Homo sapiens: one gene and its partner. The protein of the gene in region 1 interacts with the protein of each later gene in a biochemical or structural test. Each region holds a gene or a part of one and is shown in the gene's direction. Other genes may lie near its edges. The genes, in order: MND1 and RAD51.

What was found.
Region 2: the proteins of MND1 (region 1) and RAD51 interact in far-western blotting, tested with the Homo sapiens proteins (one study listed by BioGRID).

What each region holds. Positions count from the first base shown.
Region 1 is NC_000004.12:153,400,119-153,403,940, forward strand, and holds part of MND1 (meiotic nuclear division protein 1 homolog), read left to right. Parts: intron 1-3,822. UniProt on the Homo sapiens protein: Required for proper homologous chromosome pairing and efficient cross-over and intragenic recombination during meiosis.
Region 2 is NC_000015.10:40,715,560-40,719,381, forward strand, and holds part of RAD51 (DNA repair protein RAD51 homolog 1), read left to right. Parts: intron 1-3,245; coding exon 3,246-3,340; intron 3,341-3,822.

The sequences.
Region 1 (3,822 bases):
AGCTGGTCTCGAACTCCTGGCCTCAAGCAGTTCTCTCCCCTTGGCCTCCCAAAGTTCTGGGATTACAGGTGTGATTCACCATGTTTGGCCTTTATCATTTTTCATCACCATCAGACTAGGTTATCTTTTAATAGTTATTTATGCAACCATGTAAAGATGGATCCTGGAGAACTTGTAATGGAGTCTATTAGAGATATATTAATTTTTTACTTGGGAATGAGAGAGTAAGAATCCTTCCTTCCTGGCTTTGTGCATTTTAAAAAATTTATTAAAGATTATCATCTTTTTTGCAGGCACAGTGGCTCATGCCTGTAATCCCAGCACTTTGGGAGGCCAAGGCAGGAAGATAGCTTTAGGCTAGGAGTTTGAGATTAGCCTGGGCAAGAGAGTGAGACCCTATCTCTACAAACAATTTAAAATTAGCTGGTCATGCTGGCATGCGCTTTATTCAAGTTTTCTTCCTCCAGTTTTATTACCTTTCTACTTGAGAGGCTGAGATGGGAGGATTCCTTGCACCCAGTAGTTCAAGGCTGTAGTGAGCTATGGTCGTGCCACTATACTCCAGCCTGGGCAACCGAGTGAGACCCTGTTTCTTGAAAAAGGATTAACATCTAGCAAGATAAAATTCATTATGTCTGGCATACAAGCAAAGACTACCAGGCCTGGAGAGAAGTGGGAAAACATTATCTATAATGAGCAGAATACTCCATCAGTCAAAATTGACCCAGAAATTAGGATCAGAAGACCAGAACATTTAAAAAGTTATTATAACTGTATTCCATATGTTCAAAAAGTTAAGTGGAAATAGAGAAGATATAAAAAAGACCCAGGTCAAACTTTTGAACATGAAAACTACAATGTCTGACATGAAAAATACACTATGGTAAATTACCAGCAGATTAAATTTTGCAGAAGAAAGAATTGATGTTAGTTGAAGATATAGCAATAGAAATATCCAAAATGAAACACAGAAAATAAAGAATTTAAAAAATATGAAAATGGGGCCAGGCGCAGTGGCTCACGCCTGTAATTCCAGCACTTTGGGAGGCCAAGGTGAGTGGATCACTTGAGCCCAGGAGTTCGAGACCAGCCTGGACAGCATATGGAGTCCTTGACTCCCATATAAATAAAATAAAAATTTTAAAAATATGAAAATGGCATCTGAGCCTTAAGACAACTTCAAGGGACCTAATATATGTGTAATTACAGTCCCAAATGGAGTATGTTTTGGTGGGAGGAGAGGTTGCTGAGCCAGAAAAATATCTAAAGAAATAAAAGCTAAAGTTTTTCAAATTTGATGAAAAGTATAAACCCACAAATCCAAGAAATTTAAATATTTAAGTAGTAGATGCCAGTGATCCCCTTATCACTAACTTTAGAGAACTTCTTAAGACTTTAACCTCTACTCACCCCAAATCTCCATTCCTCAATGAAATTATTGTTTTTAAAGTGCACTTTTTGATAGGGGTTTCATGGGATTTCAGCTATCATGTTAACGCAGAACAGATTATACTGGATTAAAGGCTTATGAGTTTCACAAATTGATTTTAATAGGATTTGGTTCTTAGTAGCATGGCTATTGCCCCCCATATTATATTGCTCAGGCTTATCTCTAAGTCTGTCATGATTTATTCAGAGAACAATTTGGTGACTGTAGCCATAACCATTTGTTCATATGGGGCATGGCTATGTATTTTCTTATTTCTCACTAACACCCATGAGAAATACATATATTTAATTATGCCAGTTGAATTATTGATATCATTAAGCAAGTATTTAGAAGACTAATTGCTTTGGAGGCAGAGGCAGGCGGATCACTAGGGGTCAGGAGTTTGAGACCAGCCTGGCCAACTTGGTGAAATGCTGTTTCTATTAAAAATACAACAATTAGCCAGGCATGGTGACACACACCTGTAATCCCAGCTACTCTGGACGCTGAGGCAGGAGAATCGCTTGAACTGGGGAGGCGAAGGCTGCAATGAGCCAACATCATGCACTGCACTCCATCCTGGGTGACAGAGCGAAACAGTCTCAAAACAACAACAACAAACATTAATTGCAATATCAAAGAAGTGATATTTAAAAGCAACAATTCTTTAAACAATTTTTTAATTTAGCTATTCTGACCATTATTCAAATGTGACCAGATAAAACATGTTAGTAGAAATTAAATTCCCACAAAAATACTTGAAAATATCTTAGAGGTACTTAAGTAATTTTCTTAGAAATAAATGCCAGGATGACAGTAAAAAGGTGGAGTAAGGACTTCTGAAACTTTGCCCTTTCAGAAAACTTGCAAAAATTGTTGTAGTCAACTTTTTCAGAACTCTGGAAATTAACCAAAGGCTTACAGGAGCCTACTGAGGAAAATTAGCAGACTCTGAGTAAGAATAATGAGCTTTGTGGTATTGAATTTGCCTATACTCATTTCCCAGTCTCACCGCAGCAGTGACCTTGAAGGATAACAACCCTGCATTCCTACTGTCTAGAGGAACAAAATGCCCCTGGAACTCTGTAAGAGCCTTGATCCCAAAGAATTGTCATTATTTACATGTTTGGTGGTTCCCTGGAGGACACCAATAGGAAAAACTGTCTTTATTTGATCTGGCCTCGGGTATGCCCAATGCTAAAATCCTCTCTGTGGGGAGTGTTTGTCTATAACAATTATAAACAATAATTTTAACTTCTCAGTTAACCATTGTTGATGAATAACAGTTGAGGCAAACAGTAGACTAATCAAAAAGCTTAAAAGGGCCAGATGCAGTGGTTTATGCTTGTAATCCTAACACTTTGGGAAGATTGCTTGAGCCCAAGAGTTCAAAACCAGTCTGAAGAAAATGGCAAAACTCCATCTATGTAAAAAATTTAAAAATTAGGCATGGTGGCATGTGCCTGTAGTACTAGCTACTCAGGAGGCTGAGGTGGGAGGATCACTTGAGCCGAGGAGATCAAGACTGCAGTGAGCCATGATCGTGCCACTCTGCTCCAGCTTGGGTGACAGAGTGAGAACCTTCTAAAAAAAAAAGGAGAAACTAAATGATATGTTCATGAGAGCCTTGAAGAGCAACATATTCCTGGAAATATAGAAGGCCTACATGCATGCTTAGGGTTGTTCACATTCTCAGTGAAGACCTGGGACAGTCCCCACATCTAGCTGACCTTGATACTCTGTGCAAGCAAGAAGCAAAGACTAAGTCAGAGTTATAAACTGCCTTGCTGAGAACGCATGTCGCAGCACATGCAAACCCTCTTAGCAAAGACGGCTGAGCCCTTTGGAAAAGAGAACCTCTTCATAGAGGTTTAGTCCAAGTGTTTAAGGAAATCTCTGTTCAATTAATAGCTTGACCACTAAGCTAACCAAGTAGAGACTTAAGTGGCCACACTTAAGAACACGGACTTTACAGATTGAGTTCAGGAAAGTTACTAAACAAATTGTAACAACTCTACGAGCAACAATCCTGGGGAGGGGGAAGAATCTGCTTTCTAGGGTTGCTATGAGACAGAATCTTGCTCTGTAACCCAAGCTGGAGTGCAGTGGCACAATCTTGGCTCACTACAACCTCTGCTTCCCGGCCGGGTTCAAGTGATTCTCGTGCCTCAGCCTCCCAAGTAGCTGGGATTACAGTGCCTTATATTATTTTTTAAATTAATTATTACTTTTTTTTTTGAGACACTCTCACTCTGTCACCTCAGCTGGAGTGCAGTGGCATGATCATGACTCAGTGCAGCCTCAACCTCTTGGGCTCAAGCAATCCTCCTGCCTCAGTCCCCTGAGTAGCTGGAACTACAAGCACATGCTACCATGCTGAGCTAATTTTTGTA
Region 2 (3,822 bases), on another chromosome or scaffold:
TAAGAAGAGCTAACCTGATGGTATCCCAATCCAGTAACAGAAGATGGCTATGATGGCACTGGGAGGGCAAGGTAGAAAGGGCCAAATAAGCTGGAGAACAGAGCATGCAATCCATCCCCATGATCTTACCCTGGGAGCTTGTCCACTATCCTGTTGTCAGTCTACCTACCTATTCCCAATCATCTGTGGCCTTTCCTTTGCCAAGGAAGTCTATTCAATTGGAAAAGAATCCCCTGTCATGTTAGCACTTAATATTACCTGGAGGTAGGAGAAAGGAGAACTTCGTTCATCTTATTTCCTGGGGACTTAGTCCCCAGAGTGTTAATATTTCCTCCTCTCCAAGAAACTGAGGCAGATTCTGCTCTCTGTCCTCTTGGCCACTGGTTCCAAGTCTTTCTTTAGGCATGACCCTCTTTTGTTGTATATGTGTCCTTTGCTCCTTCCATGGATTCCCATGATGTGAGAGATTTTATCTGCCAAATAGTAACGTAATTTTTCCCTTCCAAATTAACAAAGCCTTCCGTAACTGTATACACTAAAGTCAGTGCCCTAAAGGTTGGGAAAATCATGTCTTCAGAGTGTACCGTGCTAAACGCTTTACATGAATTATTTTATTTAGTTTTTAAAACAATCCCATAAGGTCGGTTTTATTTACATTTTACAGAAAAGGAAACAATATTCTCAGTCACATAGTAAGTGGAAGAACCACTTATATAAAAGAAGTATATGAAAATGCATAGAAAATAATCTGGGAAATTATTTCTGGGAGATGGAGAGTGGTGAAGAGCTTTCAGTTTTTTCTCCGCCACTTCCTCTTTTTTTTTTTAGACAAAGTCTCACTCTGTCACCCAAACTGGAGTGCAGTGGCATGATATCGCTCACTGCACCCTCCGCCTCCCAGGTTCAAGTGATTCTTGTGCCCCAGCCTCCCGAGTAGCTGGGATTACAGGTGTGCACCACCACGCCCCACTAATTTTTGTATTTTTAGTAGAGACAGGGTTTCACCATTTTGGCCAGGCTGGTCTCGAACTCCTGACCTCAGGTGATCCACTCGCTGGGATTACAGGTGTGAGCCCCCATGCCTGGCCTCTCTACTTCTTTTTTTTTTTTTTTTTTTTTGAGATGGAATCTCGCTCTGTCACCCAGGCTGGAGTGTAGTGGCACGATCTCGGCTCACTGCAAGCTCTGCCTCCCAGGTTCACGCCATTCTCCTGCCTCAGCCTCCCAAGTAGTTGGGACTACAGGTGGCCGCCACCACGCCCGGCTAATTTTTTGTATTTTTAGTAGAGACAAGGTTTTACCATGTTAGCCAGGATGGTCTCGGTCTCCTGACCTCAGGTGATCCACCTGCTTCGGCCTCCCAAAGTGCTGGGATTACAGGCGTTAGCCACTGCGCCTGGCCTCCGGCCCTCTACTTTTATATTGTTTAGATTTTTAATATAAGCATATAGTTGTTTTGTAATTTCAAAAAAAAATTCTCAAAGATAAGAAAGAAAATTTGGGCTGGGTGCAGTGGCTCACGCCTCCCAGCACTTTGGGAGGCCAAGGTGGGTGAATCACCTTAGGTCAGGAGTTAAAGACCAGCCTGACCAACGTGGAGAAACCCCATTTTTACTAAAAAATGCAAAATTAGCCGGGCGTGGTGGTGCATGCCTGAAATCCCAGCTACTTGGGAGGCTGAGGGAGGAGAATCCCTTGAACCCGGGAGGCAGAGGTTGTGGTGAGGCAAGATCATGCCATTGCACTCCAGCCTGGGCAACAAGAGCGAAACTCCGTCTCAGAAAAAAAAGAAAGAAAAAATTTGGTTCTCCTAGGCCTTTAACATAAAATGTTCTAAAGGATTTTCCTCATAATTTAAATGGGAATTATGACTCCAAAGTAGATTTCTAGAGTAGAAATTACCCTTTAGCATCATTCACTTAAACTTTGTAGAAAAATTCAAAGGTATCTGGTATGGAATGGGTAGTCTAAAGCAGAGATTTCCTTGAGTGGCTCATAAGACAGTTTTCATGGCATTTCATTTACTTCTCTTTTCTTTCCTTTTTGTTTTCTCTTTAAAATTCTTTCTACTTATTTTTCTGTTTTCTCCAATTGTTCATTTTAAACATCTTGTTTATACTATTGGAGTAAATATGTTTTTTTCTTCTTTCTTGCTCACACTCGAAATTTGCTATAGACACTCCGAGGGCATTGACTAGTCCCTTTAGTACCCCTAAAGAATGAACTGCTCAATAAAGTGAAGTATAAGTTTGATATAGACATGCTAAAATTAACTGGGCTTTGGATCATGGCCCATTATTGATTAAAGCTAAGGTAAATGGTCTTCCAAGTTTCTGTACTTTTGAATTGATCAGTCTTGTGTTGGTATGCAGTTCTAGAATTTTATTACTGGCCAGGTGTGGTGGCTCACGCCTGTAATCCCAGCACTTTAAGAGGCCGAGGCGGGCAGATCACTTGAGTCCAGGAGTTCAAGACCAGCCTGGGCAATGTGGCAAAACCCTATCTATAAAAAAATTTAATCGGGTGTGGTGGTGCACACCTATGGTCTCAGCTATTTGGGAGGTGAGATGGGAGGATCTCCAGAGCCCGGAAGGCAGAGGTTGCAGTGAGCCAAGATTGCACCACTGCACTCCAGCCTGGGCGGCGGAGTGAGACCCTGTCTCCAAAACAAAAAAAGGCCAGGTGCAGTGGCTCGTGCCTATAATCCCAACACTTTGGGAGGCCAAGGCAGGCAGATCACCTGAGGTCAGGAGTTCAAGACCAGCCTAGCCAACTTGGTGAAACCCTGTTTCTACTAAAAATACAAAAATTAGCTGGGCGTGGTGGCATGGACCTTTAATCTCAACAACTCAGGAGGCTGAGGCAGGAGAGTTGCTTGAACCCAGGAGGTGGAGGTTGCAGTGAACCGAGATAACGCCACTGCACTCCAGCCTGGGCAACAGTGAGACTATCGCAAGAAAAAAAAAAAAAAGAAGAAAAGAATTTTATTACCTACTTTGGGCTATATTTCTAAGCAGTCCAGTTCTGACAGGACTAGCTGTATGTACTGAGACACAATCAGCTTTACATATTTTTCTAGCTGTATTTCTATTAATATCAGAAGGGAATGCCTCCTTCCTACCACTGTCATTTTTAAATGTTTTTTTCCCTTTGCCTTGGAGGAATTATAAAGATGTCATGAGGAGCTTGGTCAGCTGTATCAGAAATACAATGTTCATTTCTACTGTTGTTTTTGTTCTCTATAGCTTCCCATTGACCGGGGTGGAGGTGAAGGAAAGGCCATGTACATTGACACTGAGGGTACCTTTAGGCCAGAACGGCTGCTGGCAGTGGCTGAGAGGTAGGTTACTGGTTTAGATAAGAGAGACTATGGCTACACTTATCAATGTAGTGATTGCCAGGGTTAGTTTGGCCGAAGAATGTCTCTTCTATAACCCCACGTCCCAAAGTTGTATGTGTGGTTCAAAAGAATGACTTCCTTAGTAGAAAAAGGCATTCTTTTTTTTTTTTTTCTTCAGATGGAGTCTCGCTCTTGTCACCCAGGCTAGAGTGCGGTGGCGTGATCTCAGGTCACTGCAACCTCTGCCTCCCGGGTTCAAGCAACTCTCCCACCTCAGCCTTCCTAGTAGCTGGGATTACAGGCGCACACCACCACACCCAGCTAATTTTTTGTATTTTTAGTAGAGATGGGGTTTCACCATATTGGCCAGGCTGGTCTCAGACTCCTGACCTCAGGTGATCCACCTGCCTTGACTTCCCAAAGTGCTGGGATTACAGGTGTGAGCCACCGCACCCGGCCAGAAAAAGGCATTCTTTAGAGTT